Linked DNA regions of Homo sapiens. The protein of the gene in region 1 purifies or fractionates together with the protein of each later gene. This does not show direct contact. Each region holds a gene or a part of one and is shown in the gene's direction. Other genes may lie near its edges. The genes, in order: OR7A5, UBE4B and UBL7.

Region 1 (4,157 bases):
CCATGCCCAGGTAATTTTTACATTTTTAGTAGAGACGGGGTCTCACCGTGTTGGCCAGGCTGGTCTCGAACTCCGGCCTCAGGTTATCTGCCTGCCTTAGCCTCCCAAAGTGCTGGGATTACAAGTGTGAGCCACCACATGCAGCCTCATTCCTGTTTTTAAACTACTGGCCTCAAGCATGAGAACTGAAAACATCATGAAGGAGTTTCAACCATTCATCCCTTTCTTGGTTTATAATGTTGAGCAGATCACTGAATCTTTCTGAGCCCCATTACTGCATACGTAGAATGATGCTCATGACAGTACCGACCACATAAAATAAACATTTATAAACATTAGATAAAATAATCCTTATAAGGTGCCATTCTCAGGACAATGTGCATAAAAGGGTCTAAATATATCTCTTGTAATTGGTACACATTTTATCAATGAAGAACTAAAAGACAGTTCTTAATTTGTCTGACAAGCATTAAATTACAAATTGTTTTGGTGAAAACATCATGAAGCCAAGGAGTACAGCCAAGCCATGATTTATATCAAAGGAACACAGTACTCCCTCTAGTTGAAGAATGAGATGGAAATTTTCAGATGTTGGGCCAGGCACAGTGGCTCACGCCTGTAATCCCAGCACTTTGGGAGGCCAAGGCGGGTGGATGACCTGAGGTCAGGAGTTCGAGACCAGCCTGGCCAACATGACAAAACCCCTTCTCTACTAAAAATATAAAAATTAGCTGGGCATGGGGGTGAGCACCTGTAGTTCCAGCTACTCGGGAGGCTGAGGCAGAAGAATCACTTGAACCCAGGAGGCGGAGGTTGCAGTGAGCTGAGATCACACCACTGCACTCCAGCCTGGGTGACACAGTGAGACTCCGTCTCAAAAAAAAAAGAGAAATTTTCTTATGGTATCAGAGGCTGTATTCCCACAATAAGTCGATGCTTTGGAGATTTAAGGGGAGTAGGCAAGATGGGTTTCTCAGTCTTAGATGTGAAGAAAACTTTGTCTCAGGATTGGGACAGTTGTTACAAAGTTAGACTTCTGGAAGAAAGGAGAGTTCATGTTGAAAGAGTAAGAAAGACTGGTTCATCCAGTCTCTTGGGAACAGAGAATCTGCAGGATTTTTTTTCTTTCTGTGCAAAACAATGTCCCACAGGGACATAATGTACTCAGGGTTTCAAATAACAAGAAGAAATGTGCCTATTGAGCAGATGTGGGAAGCTATAAATATTTCATCTGCTGTTGTCCCTCAGGCACCCCTGGGTTGAATGGAATATCATTGTTTCTTTTGAAGTCCTAAGTCTAGCTCAGAGACAGATGCTTGACTCTTTCCTGCTGCCTAGTCTGCTGAGCAGAGCTTCAGTCTCCACCATCAATCATCCAGTGAGGAATTTGCACTTACACAAGGAACTCTTCCTCGGAGAGATCCCCTCCTGGTGAGTTGGAGAGCCCAGTGGGAACTGCAGGAAAACAATAGATGGAATAGATGCAGAGAATATTTACCTGAGATCACCTGAGAGCCAGTCCAGCCTAGCCCAGAGCCAAGATATTGCTGCGGTTATTTGCTTGGTTGATTAATTAACTAAGTAATGTCTCGTTTTATGATGCAAAAAAAGAAAAGTGAACACTGAACTAGGCAATGCAAGGGTGACGACTATTGACATTTAGTGAAGGTCACAGAAGCCCAATTAGAAGGAATAGGAGGTGTAAAATGATTTTTGTAAAAGTACAACATACATCTTTGTAATTAAGGGGAGTAGAGAAATCGTGTATTGGCTGTGGAGGGATATACAGTCATGTAAAGACATTTCCTTTTTACTTTTAAAATGGAGCATATTTCAGTTTGATTCTATGCCCGTGAGAAAAATCCAGATGAACGGATTGCTTGCAAATACCATTTTGCAACAGCAGTTCATAATGCGTATATTTTGCAGGATTTTCTCTTACGCTAGGTATTCAGATAATACAAAATATTTAATAGGTGAGAGACTATGTACTAATGAGCTGTACTTGCATTTATTTCCTCACTTGCGTGGCTGAATATATTTGTGTGTTGTTTAGGCCTGTGATTTGATGCTTCTAAACAACTCACAGTGTATAGGATAGACTTTATCAAAGAGAGTGATCTAGCCCAGAATATCAATAGTGCTGAGATTGAGAAACACTGTGGCGAGGAATATCTGCTGGCTTCCTGGTTTTTGGAGTTTTGTTGTTTGTTTGTTTTTTCTTTGAGACAGAGCCTCACTCTGTCGTGCAAGCCTCTGTCCATGCTACTACTGGAATGCAGTAGCATGATCTCAGCTCACTGCTGCCTCAACCTCCTTGGCTCCGGTGATCCTCCCACCTCAGTCTCCCAAGTAGCTGGAACTACTGGTGTGCACCACCATGCTAGGCTAATTTTTGTATTTCTTTTGTAGAGATGGAGTTTCACCACGTTGTCCAGGCTGGTCTCGAACTCCTGGGCTCAAGCAATTTACTTGCCTCAGCCTCCCAAAGTGCTAGGATTGCAGACGTGTGCCACCACGCCCAGCCTGTATGTGTTTTTAATATTTTATCTGTCTGGAGATTGTTTCCACAAGACATTATGACACTTATTTCTGTCACCAAAATTAGAGTACCCGTTTGCCATCTGTTTAAAAATTCCAACACAAATCTATGACAGCTGAGAAAGTTCCCCACTCCATCCCCGCTCAGGCTGATGGACGTGAGATTTCTTACTGTTTTCTTAAAATATTACTGACTTTGAGCAAATATTCATATATTTGATCAAGATCTTGATTGCCTTATGTTTACTATATGCCCATTTTTATACAGTTACCAGCGTTTAAAATTATTTTTTTCAATGATTCTTTTTCAGTTGACTTTTGGGGAAATTTATTAGCCATAAAAAGTTTAAAATATTCTTTAGTTAAATATATACCTATCATCTTACTTCTGCAATTATTGCCTTAGTTAAGGTGATTTGCCCACCCACAGATTTCATATGTAGTTTCCCTGTTTTCATGGAAAAGGCATTGTTTACTTTTTTTTTGAGACGGAGTCTCGCCCTGTCAACCAGGATGGAATGCAGTGGTGCGATCTTGGCTCACTGCAACCTTCGCTTCCTGGATCCAAGCGATTCTCCCACCTCAGCCTCCTGAGTAGCTTGGACTGCAGGCAAGTGCCACCATACCCATCTAATTTTTGTATTTTTGGTAGAGATGGCGTTTCGCCATATTGCCCAGGCTGGTCTTGAACTCCCGACCTCAAGTGATCCACCCACCTGGACCTTCCAAACTGCTGGGATTACAGGCATGAGCCACCGTACCTGGCCGATATTGAAGTTTTTAATTCCTCTGACTTTGTGTAAGATGTGTGAGGTAGGTGACCAATTTTATTTATTCCAGACAAATAGCTGTTTATGACAGCATTTATTTAAATATCCAATCCTTTCTAACTAAATTGAAATACAAGCTTGCTGTATATTAAATGCCCATGTATACTGAGAACAAAGTCCTGATTCATTCAGCAAATAATAACTGAGCATCTGCTCTGTGCAAGAGTTTTTTATGAACAGTGTATGCCATATTCTTTTATATCTAGATTTTTGCCAATTTATTAATTTATGTTGATATGATTAAATTATTATTATAGCATGTCAGTTAATTTTCAATACTTCAACAATTTTATTCACTACAGTTGATTATATTTAACCTGGTTTTATTCTCCTGCCATTCTTTCTAATTTTATAATTCTTTTTTTAATAATGCATACATCGTCACATCTTTTTATGAAAATATGAAGGTAGCCAGGCACTGTGGCTCAGGCCTGTAATCCCAACACTTTGGGAGGCCGAGGTGGGTGGATCACGGGGTCAGGAGATCGAGACCATCCTGGCCAACATGGTGAAACCCCGACTCTATTAAAAATACAAAAATTAGCCAGGTGTTGTGGCTCATGACTGTAATCCCAGCTACTTGGGAGGTTGAGGCAGGAGAATCGCTTGAACCCAGGAGGCGGAGGTTGCCAGTCAGCCGAGATCGCGCCACTGCACTCCAGCCTGGTGACAGAGCAAGGCTCCATTAAAAAAAAAAAAGAAAAGAAAAAAGAAAGAAAGAGAGAGAGAAGGAAGGAAGGGAGGGAGGGAGGGAAGGAGGGAAAAAAATACATAAGTGAACATCCA
Region 2 (3,655 bases), on another chromosome or scaffold:
TTTTTTTTTTTTTTTTGAGACAGGGCCTCACTCTGTTGCCCAGGCTGGAGTGCAATGGCGTGATCTTGGTTCACCACAACCTCCGCCTCCTGGGTTCAAGCGATTCTCCTGCCTCAGCCTCCCAAGTAGCTCCGAGTAGCCAGGCCCGCAACCGCGCCTGGCTAATTTTTGTATTTTTAGTAGAGACAGGGTTTCACCATGTTGGCCAGGCTGGTCTTGAGCTCCTGACCTCAGGTGATCCACTGGCCTCGGCCTTCCAGAATGCTGGGATTACAGGTGTGAGCCACCACGCCCGGCCATCTTTGCTCTTTTATGCTCCCCATAGATTGTATTGTAAGCTCATGAGACTTAGATGTTGTAACTTTGATGTTATAGGAATAGGCTTACTTTTCCCCTAATCAGTGGGTGAATGGTTTCATGCATTTTTAAAATATCATCACTAATAATGAATTAAATCAGAATAACGTATTCCTATTGAAACACCTAACTCATACCTCTTATTTGAAATTAACCTGCAAATCTTCTTCTTCACCAGGAGCCTTCCTCGGGCCCTGAAGTGTCTGAAGAGCAGGCCTTACAGCTGGTCTGTAAGATCTTCCGTGTCTCTTGGAAGGACCGGGACAGAGATGTCATCTTTCTTTCTTCTCTTTCTGCACAGTTTAAGCAGAACCCAAAAGAAGGTAGGAATCTAGCTCAGCAGTCTTACTGCAGAGTACTCGACAAGAAAATAAGATGTGAGATCTTTGCCCTCTGTTATCCACATTCACTCCATCTTGCTCTTGGGTTGTATTTTTGATGACAGGGATACTTCTTGATGAGGACACAATTGTTTAGCCACTTTCTTCCCTTTCCACTGATCTTATCGATAACTTATTTTTCATTTCCATGATTTCTATAATACTATGTAAATAGGTTAATGGTCTCCATTTTCTCAGGGTTGAAGTTTTTCTCTTTGTAGTAAGAAGGTGCTTAGAGCATTACCTCCTCTTTATTTATTTATTTATTTATTTATTTATTTATTTATTTATTTATTTATTTTGAGATGGAATCTCACCCTATCACCAGGCTGGAGTGCAGTGGCATGATCTCAGCTGACTGCAACTTCTGCCTCCCGAGTTCAAGTGATTCTTCTGCCTCGGCCACTGGAGTAGCTGGGACTACAGGCGTGCACCACCACGCCCAGCTAATTTTTGTAGTTTTTTTTGTTTGTTTTGTTTTTGTTTTTTTTTTTTTTTTTGAGACAGAGTCTTGCTCTGGCACCAGGCTGGAGTGCAGTGGCGCAGTCTTGGCTCACTGCAACTCCCACCTCCTGGGTTCAAGCAATTCTCCAGCCTCAGCCTCCCGAGTTGGGATTACAGGCATGCGCCACCACACCCAGCTAATTCTTGTATTTTTAGTAGAGACAGGGTTTCACCATGTTGGCCAGGACGGTCTCGATCTCCTGATCTCGTGATCCGCCCGCCTTGGCCTCCCAAAGTGCTGGGATTACAGGCATGAGCCACCGTGCCTGGCCTCATTTTTGTAGTTTTAGTAGAGACAGGATTTCACCATGTTGGCCAGGATGGTCTCGATCTCTTGACCTCGTGATCTGCCTGCCTCGGCCTCCCAAAGTGCTGGGATTACAGGCTTGAGCCACCGAGCCTGGCCTTACCTCCTCTTATGAAGTATAGATATAGTGGGTGGTCTCCAGGGATCCTGAGAGAAGTGTTCTGTATGAGCTATACCTGCTTTAAGTGCCTATGAAGCCATGTATAGACGGTGGAATTGGTCTATTTGGTTAAATTGCTTAGCAAGATAGAACATAATGACATTTTGCTGTGTTTCTGATATTCCACTTTAAGAGGCCAAGCTTGTAACAAAATAATAAAACTCTTAGCAAGATATCAGCATCATAGGGCACTATCCTTTTTCTTTACAGTAGTCATTTGGAACGCAGAAGAGGTATGGGAGGTGTGCTGGAGTGGTTTTTTTGGCCTATCACTGGAATGTAACTTCCCTCATGGTAGGGATTTTTGTCTGTTTTACTCATTGATGTATCCCTAGAAGGATATCTTGCACAAAATAGTCCCTCAATAGATAGATTTTAAATGGATGCGTGAATATCAAGGAGATCACCTTTCTCTTTTCTATGCTGCCTATCTTCTGAGGAGGGAAAAAAAAAGTCCTTTGTATTTCTGGAGGATAGATAAGACTATTTCTGATTTTACTTATTAACTCTGCTAATGGAGCAGACCATGTATTTGAAACTCTGCTACTTGTTATTCTTATTATAAATCTTAAGATTCTCTGTCTTACACATGTAAGTGGCAAATCTGTCTTACACATGTAAGTGGCAATTTTAAATAACCAAATCAGATAAAATTTCCATGAGTTAAAACTTTTGTTAAAACAAGTGTCTTACACATGTTAAGTGGCAACTCTGTCTTACACATGTAAGTGGCAATTTTAAATAACCAAATCAGATAAAATTTCCATGAGTTAAAACTTTTGTTTAGTGGTATTTAAAATGTATCTAAAGACCAACAGTAAATCAACTGGGAGCTGCAAAGAATAAGAAGGAAGCTAGAATGTAGCATTTGCTCCTGAAAGCCACATGGTGACTAGATGTTGGACCCTTCATAAAATCTTTTGAACCTTGGACTTAATAGTTTTATTACTATCTATAAAACATATCTAGACTAAGAAATATTAACCCAGTTGCATTTGTAGTATAATAAAGTAACCTCTATAGTTGGGAGTAGCTTCTTTTTACAATTAATATACATCAGCGGTAACTCTCAATGACTGTACCCCAACTTTCTTTTTAATAAACTTTTAATTTTGGAATAGTTTCAGTTAGTGCAGGGAGTTCCTATATATACTTTACCCAGTTTCCCCTGACGTTAATATCTTATATAACCATGGTACATTTGTCAAAACTAAGAAATTACTACTAACTAAACACAAGGCTTTATTTAGGTTTTCCACTAATATCCTTTTACCATTCCAGAATCTAATCCAGGATACTGCATCGAACCATTTGGGGTCAGCTGGCTTATTCAAGGGCTGTGTAACCTGTGTTCGAACTGTGTGTAACCTGTTCTTTGTTCTGCCTTTCCAACAGTATTCTCCGATTTTAAGGACTTGATTGGCCAGATTTTAATGGAAGTGCTAATGATGTCCACTCAGACCAGAGATGAAAACCCATTTGCCAGTCTGACAGCCACATCACAGCCAATTGCTGCAGCAGCACGGTCACCAGACAGAAATCTCTTGCTAAACACTGGCTCCAATCCAGGAACAAGCCCCATGTTCTGCAGCGTGGCTTCCTTTGGTGCCAGCTCTTTGTCTAGGTCAGTGTGGTTCTCTTTGCACATCTTACTGGTAGTAAAATAACTGTGAACTACGTAGGAGAAGGGAATGTTTGTTGACAGTGTTAATCAGTGTCATACAGGGTATGGCATATATCATATTTGGGGAGGTGGATTTAGTCATTGGAAGTGGAATTCTCTTTTCTAGATTATTATTTTTTGGCTCTCTATGGTTAAGATATTGCTAGATGAAATTTTAGAAGCAGTTGGCTGTGTATACTACATCATTCTTCGAATGGGGACTTTATCGTCTTGTAAGTATAGCCTCTAGATCAATAGGGCAATTAGATTATAATTATTTAGAT
Region 3 (2,997 bases), on another chromosome or scaffold:
GGACAGGTGCAGAGTGTTCCTAGCAAGGGCACACTCTCAGACCATACACAGTGGTCACTAGGCTTCTCCTGCCCCTAGTGACCATGGCCTGACTCCCTAGACCACCTGGCTTAGATAATCATGGCCATTTCATTCATTCATTCAGTGATCATTGACTGAGCATGTGTATACTAGGCCTGAGTCCAGATGCTGGGCTAGTGGCAAGCTGGTTCTCATCCCTGCCATGGAGGGGCACCAGGCAGGCACTGAGCTGGGGAGCAACAAGGCAAGAAACCCAGCTGCTTGAAGTAAGGGCCTAGGTCAGACAAAACTTTTCTGAGAGAGGGGTATTTAAGCTGATTGTCAGAAGAATTAGTTAGAAGTTAGCTAGCCAGGGAAGGGGGTTTGAGGTAGGAAGGGGCTGATTTCCAGGTGAAGACAGCTACCTGTTTGTGCACATGTGTGGAGGTATATGTGACATACTCAAAACTACAAGGCTAGGATGCAGTGTCCAGTGTAGAAGATCCGCAGATGGGGCCAGAGAAAGAGCAGGAGCCTACGAGAGGGGCTTGCATGCCAACCTGCGGAGATTAGACTTGATGACTTGATGTAGCAGTCACCAGGGATCCCTGGGAGGCATTGATTGATTGATTGATTGATTGAGACAGGGTGTCACTCTGTCACCCAGGCTGGAGTACAGTGGTGTGATCACAACTTACTGTAGCCTCAACTTCCTGGGCTCAGGTGATCCTCCCACCTCAGCCTCCCGGGTAGCTGGGACTACAGGTATGCACCACCATGCCTGGCTAATTTTTTGTATTTTTTGTAGAGATGGGGGGGTCTCCCTATGTTGCCCAGCCTGGTCTTGAACTCTTGGGCTCAAGCGATTCACCCACCTTAGCCTCCCAGAGTTCTGGGATTACAGGTGTGAGCCACCACACCTGGCCCATGGGAGGCTTTAAGGAGGAGAAAGGTCACCCTAGCAGCTAAGTGGAATACCTGAGGGGCCAGCATTGTAGTTCACAGCTCCATGCATGAGCAGTTTGGTTCACGTCTGTTTTCCTCTATTCCACATAGTAAGCCTATGGGTAGAGCATCATCCCTGGAACTTGTCTGGGGTCATAAGGCCATGAAGTCGTAACGATAGGGTTCAAGCCTGTGTGGTTTTCACTGTTCCATGTGGTCCTTGTAGACAGTGAGGGAACAGAAGCAGGATTCGTGAACAACTTGTCTTCTCCATTCTTGCATCTCCCCTGTTGCTAGATGCCTGTTTACTTTATTCCCTAGCTCAGAAGCTTTCACTGGTTCCACCTGGCCTGTAAAATGAATTCAAATTGATCTGTGTGCATTTTTTTTAAGCCCTCCATGTTCTCATCACTGCCTGCCTCTTTGACTTTGCTTTTCTTCCCCTTTGCATTGCCTTCTTCCCACATGTGAACACGTTGTTTTCCCTAAATTGTGCTCATCCCTGCTGTCATGAAATAGAGATATTAATGAAGCTATGAAAGTACTAGAAGAAAATATGGGTGAATTTCTTCAAATCCTTATAGTAGGGAAGGGCTTTCTTGGCTGAAACTCAGTATCCAGGAGCCATTAAATAAAAGTTATGCATTTTGGGTTTGTAAAAGCGAAAAATTTAAAACATCTCTTACAGTCCACAAATAGATATACCTACTATATACCACAAAAATTTAAGACATTTAAAAAAAGGTGAAAATTTCTGCGTGGCAAACCAAACCAAACAAAAAACCGAAGCAAAGTCCAAAGGCTAACAAACTGGGAAAAAAATCTGTAACACTCATCACATAAAGAGCAAAATCTTGCTGTTGTGTGTGTACACATAGCAAGAGAAAGAAAGTAATTTAGCCTCTTGGAATTCAGACAGTGAATAATTTGTACATTCTCTTTTGATCCTTATGCCAAGAATTTCCTTTTTTTATTGTAAAACTTTGGATTTGTTCTCTTAACCCTCAAGCCTATCTTTTAGTCTTCCTAGAAGCACCGTGTTCTGTGGAACTCAGCATCAGCAGCTTTGCTGAGGACTCCCCCATCTTCCTTTCCTTCCCCGGAAAGCACAGACCTAAGTGAGTCTTCACTGGATCCCAGCTAACAGCTTCTGCCCATTCCTATCTTTCCACAGAGCCAGTGGCAGCCCCAGCTGCAGCAGCTACGTGACATGGGCATCCAGGACGATGAGCTGAGCCTGCGGGCCCTGCAGGCCACCGGTGGGGACATCCAAGCAGCCCTGGAGCTCATCTTTGCTGGAGGAGCCCCATGAACTCCCTGCTTCCCCTGAACCCCCAGCAAGTTGCAGAGGCTACTGCCCTTGGGAGGCACTCATGAAGGTGCCTCCATCTCTCCCTTCCCCAATATACCTGATGGTCAACTCTCCTGCTTTGTCCAGTTCTTGACCTTTCTGGCTGATCTGAGTTGGTGGAGGCAGTGGGGCAAACAAGGTGTGCTGGTCTTGATGCTGTGGCATCAAAGCAGGGCTGGCCCCTAGTTCTGGGCCCTGGATGGAGGATGTTAGACCCTACATCATGGGATGCTGTGAGATACCCATGTTAACTTCTGGGAGAAGTTTCCAGCCGTAGCCCCCAGACTCTCTGGGGCTTTGGAGTTTGGGAGCCTCAGGATGTGCCGAAGTCTAGGCAGAGCTATCACCCAATCTTCAGGGTGGCTGCTGGATTACAGCTGTGCCCAGAAGAGGCTTATGCTTCCGAGATGTCCAGTCTATGGAGTGGCTGGGTGGACTTTCAGGGGAAGCACATGGAGGCAGCTTGCCTTCCACATTTCTCTCTCTCTCAATGGCTTCCACAGATTTCTTTGTCCACCCCACCAGTCTATTCTCACCAAGCATTTTTTGATGCTTGTTCTGTAATGATTCCAGAATCCAGGCCTCAGAGCTTCGCCAGGAGGTAGGGCCCTCCTTGTCCTGAAGGCATAAATACAAGAGCAGTTAAATAGCAATACTAAAAAACAACACCAACATGAACAGGGCTCAGCTTTAATATTGAA

What was found.
Region 2: the proteins of OR7A5 (region 1) and UBE4B purify together in Homo sapiens (affinity purification with mass spectrometry; one large-scale study listed by BioGRID and IntAct). This does not show direct contact.
Region 3: the proteins of OR7A5 (region 1) and UBL7 purify together in Homo sapiens (affinity purification with mass spectrometry; one large-scale study listed by BioGRID and IntAct). This does not show direct contact.

The regions. Positions count from the first base shown.
Region 1 is NC_000019.10:14,832,348-14,836,504, reverse strand, and holds the start of OR7A5 (olfactory receptor 7A5), read left to right. Parts: upstream 1-1,319; 5' UTR 1,320-1,431; intron 1,432-2,412; exon of another isoform or gene 2,413-2,528; intron 2,529-3,193; exon of another isoform or gene 3,194-3,354; intron 3,355-4,157.
Region 2 is NC_000001.11:10,102,413-10,106,067, forward strand, and holds part of UBE4B (ubiquitin conjugation factor E4 B), read left to right. Parts: intron 1-535; coding exon 536-680; intron 681-3,103; coding exon 3,104-3,332; intron 3,333-3,655. UniProt on the Homo sapiens protein: Ubiquitin-protein ligase that probably functions as an E3 ligase in conjunction with specific E1 and E2 ligases. May also function as an E4 ligase mediating the assembly of polyubiquitin chains on substrates ubiquitinated by another E3 ubiquitin ligase.
Region 3 is NC_000015.10:74,445,350-74,448,346, reverse strand, and holds the end of UBL7 (ubiquitin-like protein 7), read left to right. Parts: intron 1-2,119; coding exon 2,120-2,257; 3' UTR 2,258-2,370; downstream 2,371-2,997.